4 separate regions of the Homo sapiens genome follow, and regions 1, 2 and 4 are each linked to region 3. The links come from fine-mapping of genetic effects on gene expression. A gene starts in region 3. Each other region holds a variant in brackets. All regions are shown on one strand. Distances are between the middles of the regions.

Evidence for each region. PIP is the estimated chance that this variant, and not a neighbour inherited with it, causes the effect.
Region 1: its variant is fine-mapped to the expression of FXYD6 in whole blood (INTERVAL, PIP above 0.99). The same link has a PIP of 0.9 or more in blood mononuclear cells and monocytes.
Region 2: its variant is fine-mapped to the expression of FXYD6 in whole blood (TOPMed, PIP above 0.99).
Region 4: its variant is fine-mapped to the expression of FXYD6 in whole blood (INTERVAL, PIP 0.97).

The regions. Positions count from the first base shown.
Region 1 is chr11:117,834,163-117,838,322 of GRCh38, reverse strand. The region is part of intron 6 of FXYD6-FXYD2 (FXYD6-FXYD2 readthrough); the gene reads left to right. FXYD6 (FXYD domain containing ion transport regulator 6) reads left to right here. Exons shown (of 8, transcript NM_022003.4): 8 at 46-1,342. FXYD6-AS1 (FXYD6 antisense RNA 1) reads right to left here. Exons shown (of 3, transcript NR_186291.1): 2 at 1,821-2,054; 3 at 4-1,155. Among named protein-coding and RNA genes, the nearest start is that of FXYD6-AS1, 2.5 kb to the right of the region's middle. The variant G/C (reference allele first, on the strand shown) is at 2,096.
Region 2 is chr11:117,840,664-117,844,823 of GRCh38, reverse strand. FXYD6-FXYD2 (FXYD6-FXYD2 readthrough) reads left to right here. Exons shown (of 10, transcript NM_001243598.4): 2 at 2,043-2,105; 3 at 2,796-2,834; 4 at 2,959-3,033. The coding sequence starts at 2,048. It overlaps FXYD6 (FXYD domain containing ion transport regulator 6), which reads left to right. Exons shown (of 8, transcript NM_022003.4): 2 at 2,043-2,105; 3 at 2,796-2,834; 4 at 2,959-3,033; 5 at 3,640-3,676. The coding sequence starts at 2,048. Among named protein-coding and RNA genes, the nearest start is that of FXYD6-AS1, 9.0 kb to the right of the region's middle. RefSeq lists an enhancer at 1,913-3,112. The variant C/T (reference allele first, on the strand shown) is at 2,445.
Region 3 is chr11:117,875,002-117,879,161 of GRCh38, reverse strand. It overlaps FXYD6 (FXYD domain containing ion transport regulator 6), which reads left to right and starts at 2,504. Exons shown (of 8, transcript NM_022003.4): 1 at 2,504-2,570. It overlaps FXYD6-FXYD2 (FXYD6-FXYD2 readthrough), which reads left to right and starts at 2,504. Exons shown (of 10, transcript NM_001243598.4): 1 at 2,504-2,570.
Region 4 is chr11:117,810,047-117,814,206 of GRCh38, reverse strand. It overlaps a transcript of DSCAML1 not described here. Among named protein-coding and RNA genes, the nearest start is that of FXYD2, 13 kb to the left of the region's middle. RefSeq lists an enhancer at 1-397. The variant T/C (reference allele first, on the strand shown) is at 1,987.

The DNA of each region.
Region 1 (4,160 bases), 41 kb after region 3:
AGAGGCAGCCGAAGTGTTTTTAATTTAAATTATCCTCCTCCTCAGCCTCTGGAACCTGAGGCGGCTGCTTGAACCTTTGGATGCAAATGTCGATGCTTAAGAAAACCGGCCACTTCAGCAACAGCCCTTTCCCCAGGAGAAGCCAAGAACTTGTGTGTCCCCCACCCTATCCCCTCTAACACCATTCCTCCACCTGATGATGCAACTAACACTTGCCTCCCCACTGCAGCCTGCGGTCCTGCCCACCTCCCGTGATGTGTGTGTGTGTGTGTGTGTGTGTGACTGTGTGTGTTTGCTAACTGTGGTCTTTGTGGCTACTTGTTTGTGGATGGTATTGTGTTTGTTAGTGAACTGTGGACTCGCTTTCCCAGGCAGGGGCTGAGCCACATGGCCATCTGCTCCTCCCTGCCCCCGTGGCCCTCCATCACCTTCTGCTCCTAGGAGGCTGCTTGTTGCCCGAGACCAGCCCCCTCCCCTGATTTAGGGATGCGTAGGGTAAGAGCACGGGCAGTGGTCTTCAGTCGTCTTGGGACCTGGGAAGGTTTGCAGCACTTTGTCATCATTCTTCATGGACTCCTTTCACTCCTTTAACAAAAACCTTGCTTCCTTATCCCACCTGATCCCAGTCTGAAGGTCTCTTAGCAACTGGAGATACAAAGCAAGGAGCTGGTGAGCCCAGCGTTGACGTCAGGCAGGCTATGCCCTTCCGTGGTTAATTTCTTCCCAGGGGCTTCCACGAGGAGTCCCCATCTGCCCCGCCCCTTCACAGAGCGCCCGGGGATTCCAGGCCCAGGGCTTCTACTCTGCCCCTGGGGAATGTGTCCCCTGCATATCTTCTCAGCAATAACTCCATGGGCTCTGGGACCCTACCCCTTCCAACCTTCCCTGCTTCTGAGACTTCAATCTACAGCCCAGCTCATCCAGATGCAGACTACAGTCCCTGCAATTGGGTCTCTGGCAGGCAATAGTTGAAGGACTCCTGTTCCGTTGGGGCCAGCACACCGGGATGGATGGAGGGAGAGCAGAGGCCTTTGCTTCTCTGCCTACGTCCCCTTAGATGGGCAGCAGAGGCAACTCCCGCATCCTTTGCTCTGCCTGTCAGTGGTCAGAGCGGTGAGCGAGGTGGGTTGGAGACTCAGCAGGCTCCGTGCAGCCCTTGGGAACAGTGAGAGGTTGAAGGTCATAACGAGAGTGGGAACTCAACCCAGATCCCGCCCCTCCTGTCCTCTGTGTTCCCGCGGAAACCAACCAAACCGTGCGCTGTGACCCATTGCTGTTCTCTGTATCGTGATCTATCCTCAACAACAACAGAAAAAAGGAATAAAATATCCTTTGTTTCCTAGTGGCTCGGAGGTGCTTTCCTTTCTGTGAAAGAACTTGAGTGTTTGTAGGGTCTGTGGAACTTAAAGGGCTAGAGGGAGTCCGTCCATGGTCAGAGGGAAGAGGAAGGACTGGATAGCCACCCAGGCAGGCACAGAGCCCCGTCAGCTGCTGTCACTGTTGCCTCCTCCCCGCTTCTCTTCCCTCCTTTCCTTTTCTTCCTTCACTTTCCTCTCCTCCTGCTCAGCCCTTCGTCCCGCACCTTCCCGCCATTTCTATTCCTCCCTCCCTCTCTCCCGCCTTCCCAGGCCACTGGGCTCAAGCCACATCCCATAGCAGGACCTGTACATTGCACACTGTCTTGGAGCAAAAAAGGGAGTCACAATGGCTTCTCCAAGTACTCAGTGGCCTGGAGTAAAACATCCTAACATTTCTCTTTGGTCAGTTCTGGGGCCACTACCTAAGGACTTGTAAAGAGAGCCAGGGGTGGTGACTCATACCTGTAATTCCAGCAACTTGGGAGCCTAAAGCAGGAGAATTGCTTGAGGCCAGGAGTTCAAGACCAGCTGGGCAACATGGTGAAATCTTAGCTGGGCATGGTGGCTCGCACCTGTTGTCACAGCTACTCGGCAGGCTGAGGCAGGAGGATTGCTTGAACCCTGGAGTTCCAGGTTGCAGTGAACCGTGATTGCACCACTGCACTCCAGCCTGGGCAACAGAATGAGACCTTGTCTCTAAAAAGAAAAAAGGAAGGAAGGGATCAAGGGAGTGACAG[G/C]GTGGGTGACGTGGATTGTGAAATACCCCTCCTCTGTGGAGCCTCCCTGGGCATTAGGTAGAATCGAATCCCTTTTTTTTTTTTTTTTTTTTTTTGAGATGGAGTTTTGCTCTTGTCGCCCAGGCTGGAGTGCAGTGGCGTTATCTTGGCCCACTGCAACCTCTGCCTTCTGAGTTCAAGCGATTCTCCTGCCTCAGCCTCCTGAGCAGCTGAGATTACAGGTGCCTTCCACCATACCCGGCTAATTTTTATATTTTTAGTAGAGACGGGATTTCTTCATGTTGTCCAAGCTGGTCTCGAACTTTTGGCCTCAAGTGATCTGCCTGCCTCAGCCTCCCAAATTGTTGGGATTAGAGGCGTGAGCCACAGCGCCCAGCCGAATCCCTTTCTTGTGCCCCAATCACACTTGTTTGCTGCCTTTATATTCACACTTCATACTTGGCATCCAGACTGTAGAGACCAGGCAGGTAATGCCAATATGTGAATCTGCTGGAGTGACGATGGGGCATGGCACCTGCAGTCACCTACGGTGTCCTCCCAAAGACACTCTGACTCAACTTTCTAAAAACCACTGTTGGCCAAACCAACACAGATGTGGGCAGATTCTGCGTGGAGGTTGCCTGTGTGCAGCTTCTGCCTCTAGTGTTTTGTGTCTTTATTGATACAATTCCTGGAGGGCAAGGACTGTGCCTGCTCTACAGAAGCCTGGAACATCTTAGGGTCTTGAAAAAAGAATCGACCCCTGGAACGTCTTAATATCTTCCATCTTGAAGCCAGCACTTAAGGAGCGGGACCCTCTGGGCCCACCTCCTTCCAGCCCCAACTTCTAAGACCCCAGTGAACCTGGCACCTGAAGCTATAGCAGGAGACAGAAGTCAGTGCTCCTTGTGGTTTCGATGGGCCTGGGAACCACCACCTTCCCTGCCCAGTGGCCACACAGGCCCTGAGTCCGCCTGGATTCCGCAAGTTGTTTAGAACCGAAGAACCGCACAGATCCGCTTGCTCGGTGCCTTCTCTACGTGTGCTCTTGCTTCTGCCTTCGGTCCCCCAGGCCTTTGGAAAGACACAGGCTTATGGTAGAGCTCAAGCTCAACCTGTCAACCCAGTGATCATGGCGATTAAAAACTATCTGGTCACAGCAAGACCTGGTAAATGAGCTTATTGTTCGGGAACACTCGTGATACATCAGGGAATTGACAGGCCTTGCAGAAATTTCATAGCGAGGCCAGGCTGAGATCCCTAGAGGCCCTAGACATGCAAAGCTTTGTGTGTGCCGCCCCCCATACGTTAGTAAAAACAGAACATTATACTTCGACATAGGAATAAGGAAGTCCAATGAGGAGGTTCTAATTTTTCTCATAATAATTATGTTAAGAGTAAGGAATGATGGTCAGCATCTCTAGCACATCATCTACAAATGGTTATCCTTACTTTGCCCGCCTCTAAGCACTCACTTAGTTTTCCTCCTAGTAATCCAGCTATATTCTGAGATTGGTCAGAGATACAATCGTCCTGGTCCAGGTTACACAGCTGGGGGATGGAGGAGCTAGGACTTGACCCCGGGCTGTCTGTCCATAGTGCTTGTCAGCACATGGCCTAGCCTCCTTCAGCAGGCAGATGCTCAGAAGAAGGGACAGTGATCAGATGGCTCCCAAGACTGCACCTGGAGCATGGCTGCCCCTTCAAGACATAAACTAGCTGGACCATGCTCCAAGGAGCCTCCTGTGGGAGTCTAATGGTCTGGAAACAAGACACATGAAGAACAATCGAAGAAATGATGGTCAAAATGGTAATAATTAAAAAAAATGAGCAGCTGAAGTTTATGGAGCACTTACTATGTGCTTGTTTGAGGACTTCACACAGATGAGCTGGATCAGAACTCAGAGTGCTATATATCTCCATGAGGAGGACCAGGAGTGTCCACTCAGCCTCCAGGCATGTGGCACTGGTTTGTAGCTGTGATTTGGTTTAATGAGGCAATGTAGCTTGACTGAATAAGAAGGACAGCTGCCATGCTGTGTCATTTCCCAGAAGGGAATCCCAAGTTCCCTGTCTCAGTAACCTC
Region 2 (4,160 bases), 34 kb after region 3:
AGAGCAAGGGAATGATTAAAAATATGTATTTTCAGCCAGGCGCGGTGGCTCACGCCTGTAATTCCAGCGCTCTGGGAGGCCGAGGTGGGTGGATCACCTGAGGTCAGAAGTTTGAGCCTGACCAACATGGTGAAACCCTGTCTCTACTAAAAATACAAAAAATTAGCTGGGTGTGGTGGTGCATGCCTGTAATCCAAACTCCTTGGGAGGCAGAAGCAGGAGAATCGTTTGAACCCGGGAGGTGGAAGTTGCAGTGAGCCGAGATCGCACCATTGCATTCTAGCCTGGGCGACACAGGGAGACTCAGTCTCAAAATAAATAAATAAATAAATAAAAATAAAAATATATATTTTTGGGATACTGGCCACCTCTGGGAGAGAGGCAGGGGGATGGGGTGGAGGGAAATAGAGGTCACTGCAGCAGTCTTTGTAAAGCTCCATTTCCTAAGCTGCTGGTTTATGGGTGTTTCTATTATTACTATGCCTCATTATATGTGTATGTTACATATATTTTTATACATATAAGATACAGTGTAGCATTCAAAGGAAATACAAGTGTGAAATGAGACAGCATTGAAAGCAAATTACCACCTTTTGATAAAGGCTTTTTGAATCAAGGTTTGGGCCTTGACGTGGCTGTGGATGCAGTCGTTCTGACCCCTGGTGGCCGAGAGGTGAAGTGCAGTGGCGGCTGCTTGCTCAAGGCCGGAGGAAGGTAGTGACCGTGCTGGGGGCAATCAGGGTCTTGGACTGGACGGATGTCCAGGGGTTCAGGCCACTGCCAGTTTCACCCCACATGGAAAACAGCACCCAGCCTTGGGCTTTCCTGGTTCAGGAAAAGCCTCTCTGTCTCCTCTCTGGCTCTTAACCATGCTCCTTTAAGCCCAGGAGTGAGATGTGTGTCCTGCCATTGAAATCTATCCCTGGGTGCCACCTCTTGGCCCTGCCTCCTGCTTCCACCAGGATAGCCCACCTGGGGCCATCCACCCAGAGACCAGGACTGATGAGCTCCTGAGCAGAGACCTCCGCATCCTCTGGGGAAGCAGAGGCTGGGGTGCTGAGGCTCGTGGAACCAGCCTTCAAACTCCTTTTGTAGAATCAAACCACCTTTCTGGAGGATTCTGAACCAAAGCCTGTGGGAAGAGCTGACTTGGGGACTTTTGAGGTGGGACGTAAAGGGTACCTGAAGGAGGGCTGTCAGCGCTTCAGGGCCCAGGAAACCACAAGTCTCCTCTCCACCCAGCTGGCTAGACTAGAGGGACACTGGTTTACTGGCCCCATTTAGTCTGATATTAAGAGACATTTCTGATGGGGTATTGGCTGTCAGAATGAACTAGGGATGGCCACAGAAGGGTGGCCTGGAGAGAAGGACACAGTTGAGATCTTCAAAGTCACGTCCCAGAGGCAACGTGGTGGAGGAGTTACCATGCTGGGTTAGGATCTAGGCCCTGCTACTCACTCTGGTGCATGTCAGCCTCATTAAGCTTCAGGTTCTCGGCCTGCGTTAGTTGTAGTGCTTGCTAATTGTACTAACTCAATTGTGCCAATTGAATTAATACATGCAGAGCATTCTCTAAGAGTCCAAGAAATGTCAACTGGTGGTGGCTCACGCCTATAATCCCAGCCCTTTGGGAGGCTGAGGCAGATGGACCACTTGAGGTCAAGAGTTCGAGACCAGCCTGGCCAACATGATGAAACCCTGTCTCTACTAAAAATACAAAAAATTAGCCGGGCATGATGGCACACGCCTCTAATGCCAGCTACTCAGGAGGCTGAGGCAGAAGAATCACTTGAACCTGGGAGGCGGAGGTTGCAGTGAGCCGAGATCATGCCACTACGCTCTAGCCTGGGCAAGATAGCGAGACTCTGTCTCAAAAAAAAAAAAAGTCAACTGCTTGTGCTTAGGTTGTTTGAACCCTCACCAAGTCATGAGTGCAGAGCAAAGCTGGGGATTTGGCTTGGCCCCTGGTCAGGCTGACGCTTGGAGCTGACGGATGGAGGCTTCTTAGCCAGAGAATCATTTTTTCCTCCCTCTGTCCCCAGACGCCATGGAGTTGGTGCTGGTCTTCCTCTGCAGCCTGCTGGCCCCCATGGTCCTGGCCAGTGGTAAGTACCCCTCTGGGACCTGGCTGTGACAAGATGACAACCCTGTCCAGCCCTCTCTGCTGGAAGGTTCTGGGCCCCTTGGGACATTAGGGCTGGGGGACTCTCACGTTCTTCATGTCTAGTCAGGGGCCTCTCCCTTCAGTCAGCAGAGAAAGTCGTGGAGGTGGCAGCTATTTATTCACAGACCTCAGCACAGCCTGCCCCCTCGCCCCCTAAGGGTCCGGCAGGGAGTAGTTTTTAAGCCCCGCAAGCTCACTGCGCCTCTGTGGATTTGTGGCCTGAACCCTGGGATTCAGACCTGCACATCAGTCTCTAGACCATATTAGCAAGTGCTGGCCT[C/T]GTGCAAGTCATATGTCCTTCCTTGGTCTCGGTTTCTCCGTGTGTCACAAGAGGAAAACTGACCCTGCCTTCTGGGGATGATGTAAGAATACAAAGGGGCAATGAATGTGGGTGTTGCATGACTCAGAGCCTCACTGAGTTTCGATGCCTTCACTGACCTCGGCCCTTAGGGTTCCCCTAACCCCCTAACTGGCAGGCCCGCCCTACCGTGCACCTCTAGGCATCTCTGTTTAATGGGCCCTGCTCCTCTGGAATTCCTTTGTGGAGACTGAGGTCTGTGAGGCAAGGTTAGATATTTGGGAACCAGTTTGTGTAGCTTTCTTTCTCTTGACCAACTGTTTGTTTTTGCAGCAGCTGAAAAGGAGAAGGAAATGGACCCTTTTCATTATGGTGAGCGATGGCAACCCTGGGTGCAGGGGTCAGGGGGAATGCAGCCCTGCCTGGCAGGAGGGGTAGGGGGAACAGACACCCTCTCCCTGGCCCCTTCCTCTCTCACCCTTGGTTCCTTTGGCAGATTACCAGACCCTGAGGATTGGGGGACTGGTGTTCGCTGTGGTCCTCTTCTCGGTTGGGATCCTCCTTATCCTAAGTAAGTTTGTTCTTTTGCTCACTCTGTTAAGAGCAATGACTGAGGCTGCTAAGCAGGTGGGGACAGTGTGAGAGCCTGGTTGGTCCCTCTCCTGGAGAGGAAAGGAGGCTGCCTGCCCTCCGTGTTATCTTCACGACCCAGTAGAGTGCTGGGCACATAGTAAGTGCTCAGTAAAACAGTGACACGGGAACAAAGAAAATGTCATATGACAATGAGCATAGATAGGAACGAGCAGGGTGGCTTCCCAGTGCTGTGTCTATAGGGCATGAATGGGGCAGTCACGGAGGAAGGAGACAGGTGCTGCCCTAGTGTGCGAGGGATGTGCCTCCGAGTTTGTTGTTCCCACATGAGCCTGATCTGCACAGATCCCTCTTTACTCACATGATCAAGAGGGCTGTGGGGGTGTAGCCATTCCAGCTATAGAATGTATTTCCTTTGCCCCAGAAGAAGCTACCCCATCCGAGGGCCACTGTGTGCAGCTGTGCAAACTGTGCACTGCCCAGGTCTAGGGGGTGCCATTTACATAGTCCCACAACCTGCACAGACCCTTGGCCCTGCTGTGGCCAAGCCAGCAGCATGACCTTGGATGGTTTCTTTGCTTTTCAGGTCGCAGGTGCAAGTGCAGTTTCAATCAGAAGCCCCGGTAAGGATGCCGTGGCAGTGGCCTTGGGGGGGTGATACTAGGTGGGACAGGAAGGGACCCCTGGTGTGTGACCCCCAAATGGGCATTCTCTTGGATTCTTGTCTCGGAGGCAGAACGTGTGTGTTGGGACGTAGGGCTGGAAGTTTGAGGACTGCCAGGTAGACTCTGGGGCAAAGGAGAGGTCAAAACATTGAAGGTCAGCCCATCCTGTCTCTTCTGATCTATGTGGGGGACGGGGAGTGGACAAGAAAGTACTGGAACCTTTTCTGGAGGCCCTTGGGACAGTTGAGCTTGGGAGAAGGGAAGCAGAGGGCTTCCTGGCCTCTCTAGATGCCCAGGTCCTCTCTACAGGACCTGCGACACAGTCCCCACTTGTCACCTGTTCATGAGGCTCTTTGAGCTGAATAGACACTTGGACCTTCTTTCTACTCCCACATAGAGGTCATACCCCATTAGTTTACTATAATAGCCAAGGGTAGCTTGG
Region 3 (4,160 bases):
AATTGTTGGGCCAGTCCCACCCTGGCTCCTTTCACACCATGCCCCTTCTGCCTCAGGGCCTTTGCACATACTGCTTCTGTTCCAGAGGCAGAATCATCTTCCCACCCTGACATCCCAATTCTTGGCTCCTTTACCTCATCTTCTTAACATCTCCTGACCTTTCTCAAATGCTATATCTTCAGGGCTCTGAACTGTGTTTTAATTACACGTTTATTCATGGGAACATTTGCTAAATCTCTATCTCACCCAGGGACCACATCTTTCCTCTCCACAGTATATCCTCAGATCTTGGCCCAGGTCTCAGTGAAGAGTAGCTCCTCCTGTCCATACGTGGTTGAAAGAATGGAACAGCTGGCGACCTCTTTTTATGAATGCCCACATTTTTCACAGGGGGTAGATGTGTTTATTTTCCTGCTAGAAGGGAGATGTGACTCACCCCAGAACAAGCTTGCGTGCTGCTTTGTAGCTGTAACACCCCAAATTCTTCCAGCAGTACCCTTGGATGGAACGTGATGAAGCACTATTTGAGAGTTAAGCCATGGCGGTTTCTCATGCACATTTAGTTCCTGTTATCCCTCTGCAGCCTGGGCTGGTCAGCATTAGGTAGGGGGACCTGGGAAGTCACTGGGCCAAACACTTCAGAACTCTCTGGCTGGAAATGGGGTTGAACCAGAAGGTGGCTTGGCTTTGGAGTTCTGAACTATCCTTTCCCAAATAGGCTTGCAAAGCCTGGGCTTGACGTGTCATCACTAGTAGGTGCTCTAAAAAGCACAGAGAGATGGCCAAAAGGCAGGATTCAAGGGCATTTGGAGGGATGAATGTACCTGCCTAAGGACATGGGCCTAGAAAGGGATGTGGTTTTAAATCTGCCACCTAGAATACATGAAAAGGGAAAACGACAGTTGGAATGCTGTCCTCAGTTTATAGAGGAAAAGACAGGAACGGCAAAGGGTTAGGCACGCAAATAGGCAAGATTTGAGTCTGGCTTTGGAGAAGGAGCTTTAGCATTCACAGGAACCCCAGGGAGTTCAGGACTGGGCCAGAGTGGCATCCATTCAGCCAGGTCCCATGATTAAGGGGCCAGAACTATCCCCTGAGGGGAGGCTTTTTGGGTGCTCTTTCTCAGTAGCTATTTATGGTTCCCCTACTGGTTCCAAAGTCTTCTTGAGTTCATGTATATTTCCTGCCTTGGGGTTTTGAGACCTGACCTTTTATTAAAATAATTAGATCATCTAGGGCAGAGCTGGAAGAGACCTCAGGATCATCTAGTCCATCTCCCTATTTTCCCAAATGAGAAAACAGGCCCAGAACTGAGGGCAGCAGAGGCAGGGCTAGGTTTCTTCCTAGCAGTACCCATCATCCCCGGCTTGGGGTTTGTAAGGAACTCTCCGTGGCCCTACCTAGGCTTGGACAATCACAGCCTTTCTCAGTAGCTCCTCCCTCCACCCGGCTCGGCCATACACACACCTTGACTGAGGCTGGACAGCCTCCATCTCAGCATGGCTCCTGGCTACTGACACTTGTGCCTGGCCTCTGCCCCTTCCTACAAGCTCTGCCCCTAATAGTAAGAGCCAATTTCTTGAGCACTCACTATGAGCTAAGCCTCCCATGGGGTCAGTCTCTAATCACCATTTTCCCACGTGAGGAAATAGACTCAGGAGCTGAGTGCAGAGATATGCTCCAAGTCGCGTCACAGGCAGGGTTGCCGAGCCAGGATTTATTTACATCTTCACATTCAAAGTTCGTCATCATGAATTTTGACTCTTGGGGACTGGGCTGAGGACGGGGTGGTACTGCTCCTGGCAGGGCCAGAGGTGGATGGGGCTTGAAAAGGGGGTTCAAGGCAGCAGATCTATGGTTCAGGTAAGGACCATCCCCCCAGCTCCCCACCTGGCTCTAGCTGAAAATGACAACTACAACTGGAGCTGGCTCCTGCGCCCACGACACAGCCATTCATGCTTTTGGTGCACATTCCCCTTAATTACCAAGGCTCCCAATTAACGTGGGCTGCTGTGTCTGGTGCTGGGTTATTTTCTCCTATTTTTCCGTTCCTCGGGGTTTACTATTGCAGAGAGACACCAGGTCTGTCATTGTGCCTGTCTTGCTCCCTTCCCACCCTAACCAGAGGGAAACCGAAAAGCAACAGCTGATGGCAAATCCGCTCCGGCGCTTGCACGCCTCCTCGGCGGCAGTCTCCTGTTGCTTCTCGGAGCTTGACTGCCCTTTGGAAAAATCTCTCCGCCCCTCGAGAGGAGAGAGGAGCAGAGGACGCGCGCGAGCACAGAGCGGGAGGACGGACAGGGAGAGGAGGAGAGGGGGTCTGCGCGCGGCCGCTACCCAGAAGCCAGCGGACGGCAGCACGGAGTGGGCTGTCCCCGAGCCCAGCCCCGAGCGAGCCCCCCCCCCGCCCCCGCAGGACGCGCCTCCCAGCCAGCCCGACTCCTAGGAGGAGGGGAGGCGGGAAAGCAGCTCAAGCCTCACCCACCGCCCTGCCCCCAGCCCCGCCACTCCCAGGCTCCTCGGGACTCGGCGGGTCCTCCTGGGAGTCTCGGAGGGGACCGGCTGTGCAGGTAGGCGGCTGGGGAGGTGGGCAAAGTTGGCTCCTTTTTCCGAGGAGGGGCGAGGCTCGGTGGGGACCGATCTCTGGAGCGCCGGGAGCGCCGGGTTTTGTGTGTTCAGTGGGTGTGTGCGGTCCTCCGCGGTCAGCTGCGCCGCGGTCCCCGCCTGGGCAGCGGGAAACCGGGCTGGGGATGTAAACAAGGAGATCGGCGTCGGAAGAGAGAGGAGCCTCTAGGGGAGGCAGGCTGTGGCGCTGGGGGTGACGCTGGTGGCTGGGAATTGCTCTCGGTGCTGCCTTGAGCTTGGGGTCAGGGTTTTCAGGAGAAGGGGAAAGGGCTGCGCCCACCCTTTATCCATGAGGAGTTTTCCCTTTGTTACTTGGAAGCTGTGGACACTTGGTGGAGCGTGGGGAATTACGGACGAGGGCGTGTGGCTGGGTGTGAGTGTGGACTTATGAGCGACACAAAATGGAACTTGCTGGTTTGGTGCTTGGGGAAGGTGGGGCTGGGCAGTGGGCACAGGATGGGGGCGCAGGGAAAGAAGGATTCTAGCGCTCGGGGATTCATGAGAGTGCATCATTTTTTCCCTCCTTCTTGTCTTATCCATCCAATCCTGTTTCCTTTCCGGGGGGCCCTGGGGTCCGCCATTGCCCCCTTTCCCCAGCAGGGCTGGCCCTGGCAGAGCCTCCCCTATTGTGTCTCCCGGGCTTCCGTGGAGAGTTGGGTGTGCAGCCTGGAGCTCCCAGCGCTGGCTTCTGGCTCTTACAAGTGGTGGCTGGTAGAGGAGGCACCCGAGGGTGGGAGCTGGGAGCAGCCTCGCTGGAAACATGGGTCTGCCGCGTCACCTGCTGCAAGCCTGCACGCTCGCGGGACCGTGGCTACTGGAGGCTTCTCCCCACCAGTGTGCTCTCTGCCACTACTTCCTTTGTCTCTGTGGCTTCGTGCTGTCTGGCTGGGCTAAGATTTCCAGCTTTGAAGATGGATCAGTGGGCATCTCAGGCCCTCTCTGAAAGGAGCCCCCTTTGGGGATCCAGCCACCCTCATATTATGGATGTGTATGTCTACGTCCGCAACTTAGCCTTTTGCACGTGACTTGCCTGGTCGTTGCCATGGAAACTCCTCCATTTCTCAGCCTCCCTCTTTCTCCTGCCCATTCCTCACCTCCATATCTCCTCCCCTCCCCCCAGTATGGTTGCCTAGATACTGGTTATCCCTGGCTAGGAGACCTAGATATCTGGCTCCTACACCCAATTGCAGTGGCCCCTTACTCACACCACCCACTTCACACACACTGCACATCACCAACACCACAAACACATACAGACATATACCACACTACGCAATCAACACACCCTCACACTCACACCACACATACATATACATCATACCTATACACACATACACACCAAACACACCGCATATATACCGCACCACCACACACCAGCTACAATGCTACACTGACACCCTACATGCGCACTGTGCATGCACACACACACACACAGTACATCTAAATAAGTCTCAGGCTGGGCTGAGGCAGGGGAGAGAGAGGGCAGTTTCCTTCCTTATCCAGCCACCTCCCTAGGGGTGTGGAGGGGAAGAGAT
Region 4 (4,160 bases), 65 kb after region 3:
GGCCGTTTTATAGGATTTGGGAAGATAATGGAAAATTACAGTCAAAGGGGGTTGTTCTCTGGTGGGCAGGGAAGGGGGGTCACAAGGTGCTCAGTGGGGGAGCTTCTGAGCCAGGAGAAGGAAATTCACAGGGTTAATCACTCAGTTAAGGTGGGGCAGAAACAAATCACAATGGTGGAATGTCATCAGTTAAGGCGGGGCAGGGCCTTTTCACTTCTTTTGTGATTCTTCAGTTACTTCAAGCCATCTGGGCGTATAGGTGCAAGTCACAGGGGATGCGATGGCTTGGCTTGGGCTCAGAGGCCTGACATTCCTGCCTTCATATATTAATAAGAAAAATAAAACAAAATAGTGTTGAAGTGTTGGGGCGGTGAAAATTTTGGGGGAGTGGTATGGAGACAGAATGGACGATGTTTCTCCGGGCTGCTTCAAGCGGGATTAGGGGTGGCGTGGGAACCTAGAGTGGGAGAGATTAAGCTGAAGGGAGGTCTTGTGGTAAGGGGTGATATTGTGGGGTTGTTAGAAGAAACATTTGTCATGTAGAATGATTGGTGATGGCCTGGATACGGTTTTGTATGAATTGAAAAACTAAATGGAATAAGAGAAGGAGAAAAACAGGTATAAAAGGTCTAAGAATTGGGAGGACCTAGGACATTTAATTAGAGAGTGCCTATGGAGATTCAGCATAGTCCTGCCAGCAAAGATTATTTATTTACTTCAAGAGTTAAGAGTGGCAATTTGGAGATAGCACGAGGAGATATCAGCTGTGATGGCTTGGAGAAACAGTATAAACCGGCAGTGTAAACAAGAGCAGGGCATGTATGAGTAGTTGAGAACGGTGAATAGGAGTATGACTAGACAGAAGATAGTAGGGATGACAAGTTTTTTGGGGCACAGTCGAAGTTGGTCTGGTGTCTGGAATGAGACTGGGGCCTAATAAAAAGGAGCATCTATACAGGAGGTTAAATGGGCTGTACCTTGTAGCATTCTGAGGACATGTCTGACTTCTGAGAAGGGAAAGTGGTAAAAGTATTGTCCAGTCCTTTTTAAGTTGGTGGCTGAGCTTGGTGAGGTGTGTTTTTAATAGACCATTAGTCTGTCACTGAATACTAAGAGCCTGAAAAAATGCTTGGCTGATTTGACTAATAAAGGCTGGTCTGTTATCAGACTGTATAGAGGTGGGAAGGCTAAACTGAGGAATTATGTCTGACAGAAGGGAAGAAATGACTGTGGTGGCCTTCTCAGACCTTGTAGGAAAGGCCTCTAAAAGTATTAAAGCAGTGGCAGCCGCTGCACGCAGACATGAGGGCTAGGCTAAAACAGTAAGGTCAAGTTGTTTGCACAGAAAGGCTACAGTGTGCGGTCCTGGCTCTTGTGTAAGAATTTTGACTGCACTAACCATGCCTAGGAAGGAAAGGAGTTGTTGTTTTGTAAAGGATTGAGGTTTGGGAGATTAGTCGGACACGATCAGCAGGAAGAGCACGTGTGTTTTTACGAGAATTATGCCGAGATAGGTAACAGATGAGGATGAAATTTGGGCTTGACTGAAGTAATGGGGGCTGTCTGTGAAGCCTTGTGGCAGTACAGCCCAGGTAATTTGCTGAGCCTGATGGGTGTCAGGGTCAGTCCAAGTGAAGCGAAGAGAGGCTGGGATGACGGGTGCAAAGGAATAGTAAAGAAAGCACGTTTGAGATCCAGAACAGAATAATGGATTGTGGAGGGAGGTATTGCGGATAGGAGAGTATATGGGTTTGGCACCATGGGGTGGATAGGCAAAACAATTTGGTTGATAAGGCATAGATCCTGAACTAACTTGTAAGGCTTGTCTGGTTTTAGGACAGGTAAAATGGGGGAATTGTAAGGAGAGTTTATAGGCTTTAAAAGGCCATGCTGTAGCAGGCGAGTGATAACAGGCATTAATCCTTTCAAAGCTTGCTGTGGGATGGGATATTGGCATTGAGTGGGGTAAGGGTGATTAGGTTTTAA[T/C]GAGATGGTAAGGGGTGCATGATTGGTCGCCAAGGAGGGAGTAGAGGTCTCTTGTGGGTTAAGGTGGGGGAATACAAGAGGAGGACGCAAAGGAGGCTTTGGATTGGGAAGAAGGGCAGCAATGAGATGCAGCTGTAATCCAGGAATAGTCAGGGAAGCAGATAATTTGGTTAAAATATCTCGGCCTAATAAGGGAACTGGGCAGGTGGAGATAACTAAAAAAGAGTGCATAAAAGAGTGTTGTCTAAGTTGGCACCAGAGTTGGGGAGTTTTAAGAGGTTTAGAAGTCTGGCTGTCAATACGCACAGCAGTTATGGAGGCAAGGGAAACAGGCCTTTGAAAAGAAGGTAATGTGGAGTGGGTAGCCTCCGTATTGATTAAGAAGGGGATGGACTTACACTCCACTGTGAGAGTTACTTAAAGCTCGGCATCCGCGATGGTCTACGGGGCTTCCAAGGCAATCAGGCAGCCTCAGTCTTCAGCTGCTAAGCCGAGAAGGAGTCAGTCAGGGAGCCTTGGGCCAGAGTTCCAGGGGCTCTGGGAGTGGCTGCCAGGTGAGTTGAACAGTCCGATTTCCAGTGGGGTCCCGCGCAGATGGGACACGGCTTAGGAGGAATCCTGGGCTGCAGGCATTCCTTGGCCTGGTGTCCAGATTTCTAGCACTTGTAGTAAGCTCCTGGGGGAGGAGGTTCTGGAGGAACGCCTGGCCGCTGCAGTTCAGGCGTTTGGAAGTTCTTGTGTGCTGGAGATGTAGCTGGGGTTTGTCTCACAGTGGAGGTAAGGAATTGCAACTTTTTTTATTATTGTACACCTTGAAGGTGAGGTTAATTAAGTCCTGTTGTGGGGTTTGAGGGCCAGATTCTAATTTTTGGAGTTTTATTTAATGTCGGGAGCAGATTGGGTAATAAAATGTATATTGAGAATAAGATGGCCTTTTGACCTTTTAGGGTCTAGGGCTGTAAAGCTTCTCAGGGTTGCTGCCGAACGAGCCATGAACTCGGCTGGGGTTTTATATTTGATGAAAAAGAGCCTAAACGCTATCTGATTTGGGATAAAGAAAAAGGAGCATTAACCTTGACTATGCCTTTAGCTCCAGCCACCTTTTTAAGAGTAAATTGCTGGGCAGGTGGGGGAGGGCTAGTCACAGAACGAAACTGTAAGTCAGACCGGGTGTGAGGAGGAGAGGCGATAAAAAGATTACAGGGTGGAGGAGCGGAGGCTGAGGAAGAAATGGGACCTAGCTTGGTCTGGCGAGGAGGGGAGAGGTCAGATGGGTCTGTAGAAAAGGAAGATTAGAAAGACTCAGCGACGCTTGGGGTTGGGACTGAGGGGACAGGCGGGAGGGAAAGAAGGAAGATTTGGGACGAGTTGCACTGGGCACAGAGACTAGGAAGGGACTGATGTGTAAAAGAATGCGTGGACGTCAGGCACCTCAGATCATTTGCCCATTTTACGACAAGAATTATTTAGCTCTTGTAGGATGGAAAAATTGAAAGAGCTGTTTTCCGGCTATTTGGAACTACTGTCGAGTTTGTATTGGGGTCAAGCGGCATTGCAGAAGAAAATAAGACACTTTGATTTTAGGTCAGGTGAGAGTTGAAGAGGTTTTAAGTTCTTAAGGATACAGGCTAAGGGAGAAGAAGGAGGAATGGAAGGTGGAAGCTTGCCCATAGTGAAGGAGGCAAGCCTAGAGAAAAGAGTAGAGATACGGAGAAGGGGGTGGGGGTTTCTTGCCCTCCAGAAAAGCAGAGAAAGGGTTGGGGCACGGAAATAAGGGATTGGGGCACAGAGATAAGAGGTCGGGGTGCGGAAATAAGGGATTGGGACACAGAGATAAGAGGTCGGGGTGCGGAAATAAGGGATTGGGGGTTCTTGCCCCCTAGAAAAGCGGGACTTGCCACTAAGGGTGAAGGAGAAGGGGTTGAGGGGTACTTGCCCCTCCCCCAGAGGGCGCTGGAGTTTTGAGTCCACGGAGTTTTGGGTCCACGGAGTTTGGGTCCACGGAGTTTTGGGTCCACGTGTCTCCTTTGTCTCTATCAGAAAATGAAAGGAATTGAAATTAAGAGAAGGGAGAGATTGAAGTGTGGCGCCAAGATTGAAATGTGAATATGTATGTATGTGAATGTGTGTATGTGTGTGCGAATGTGTAAGTGAGTGTGTGAATGTGTGTGAGT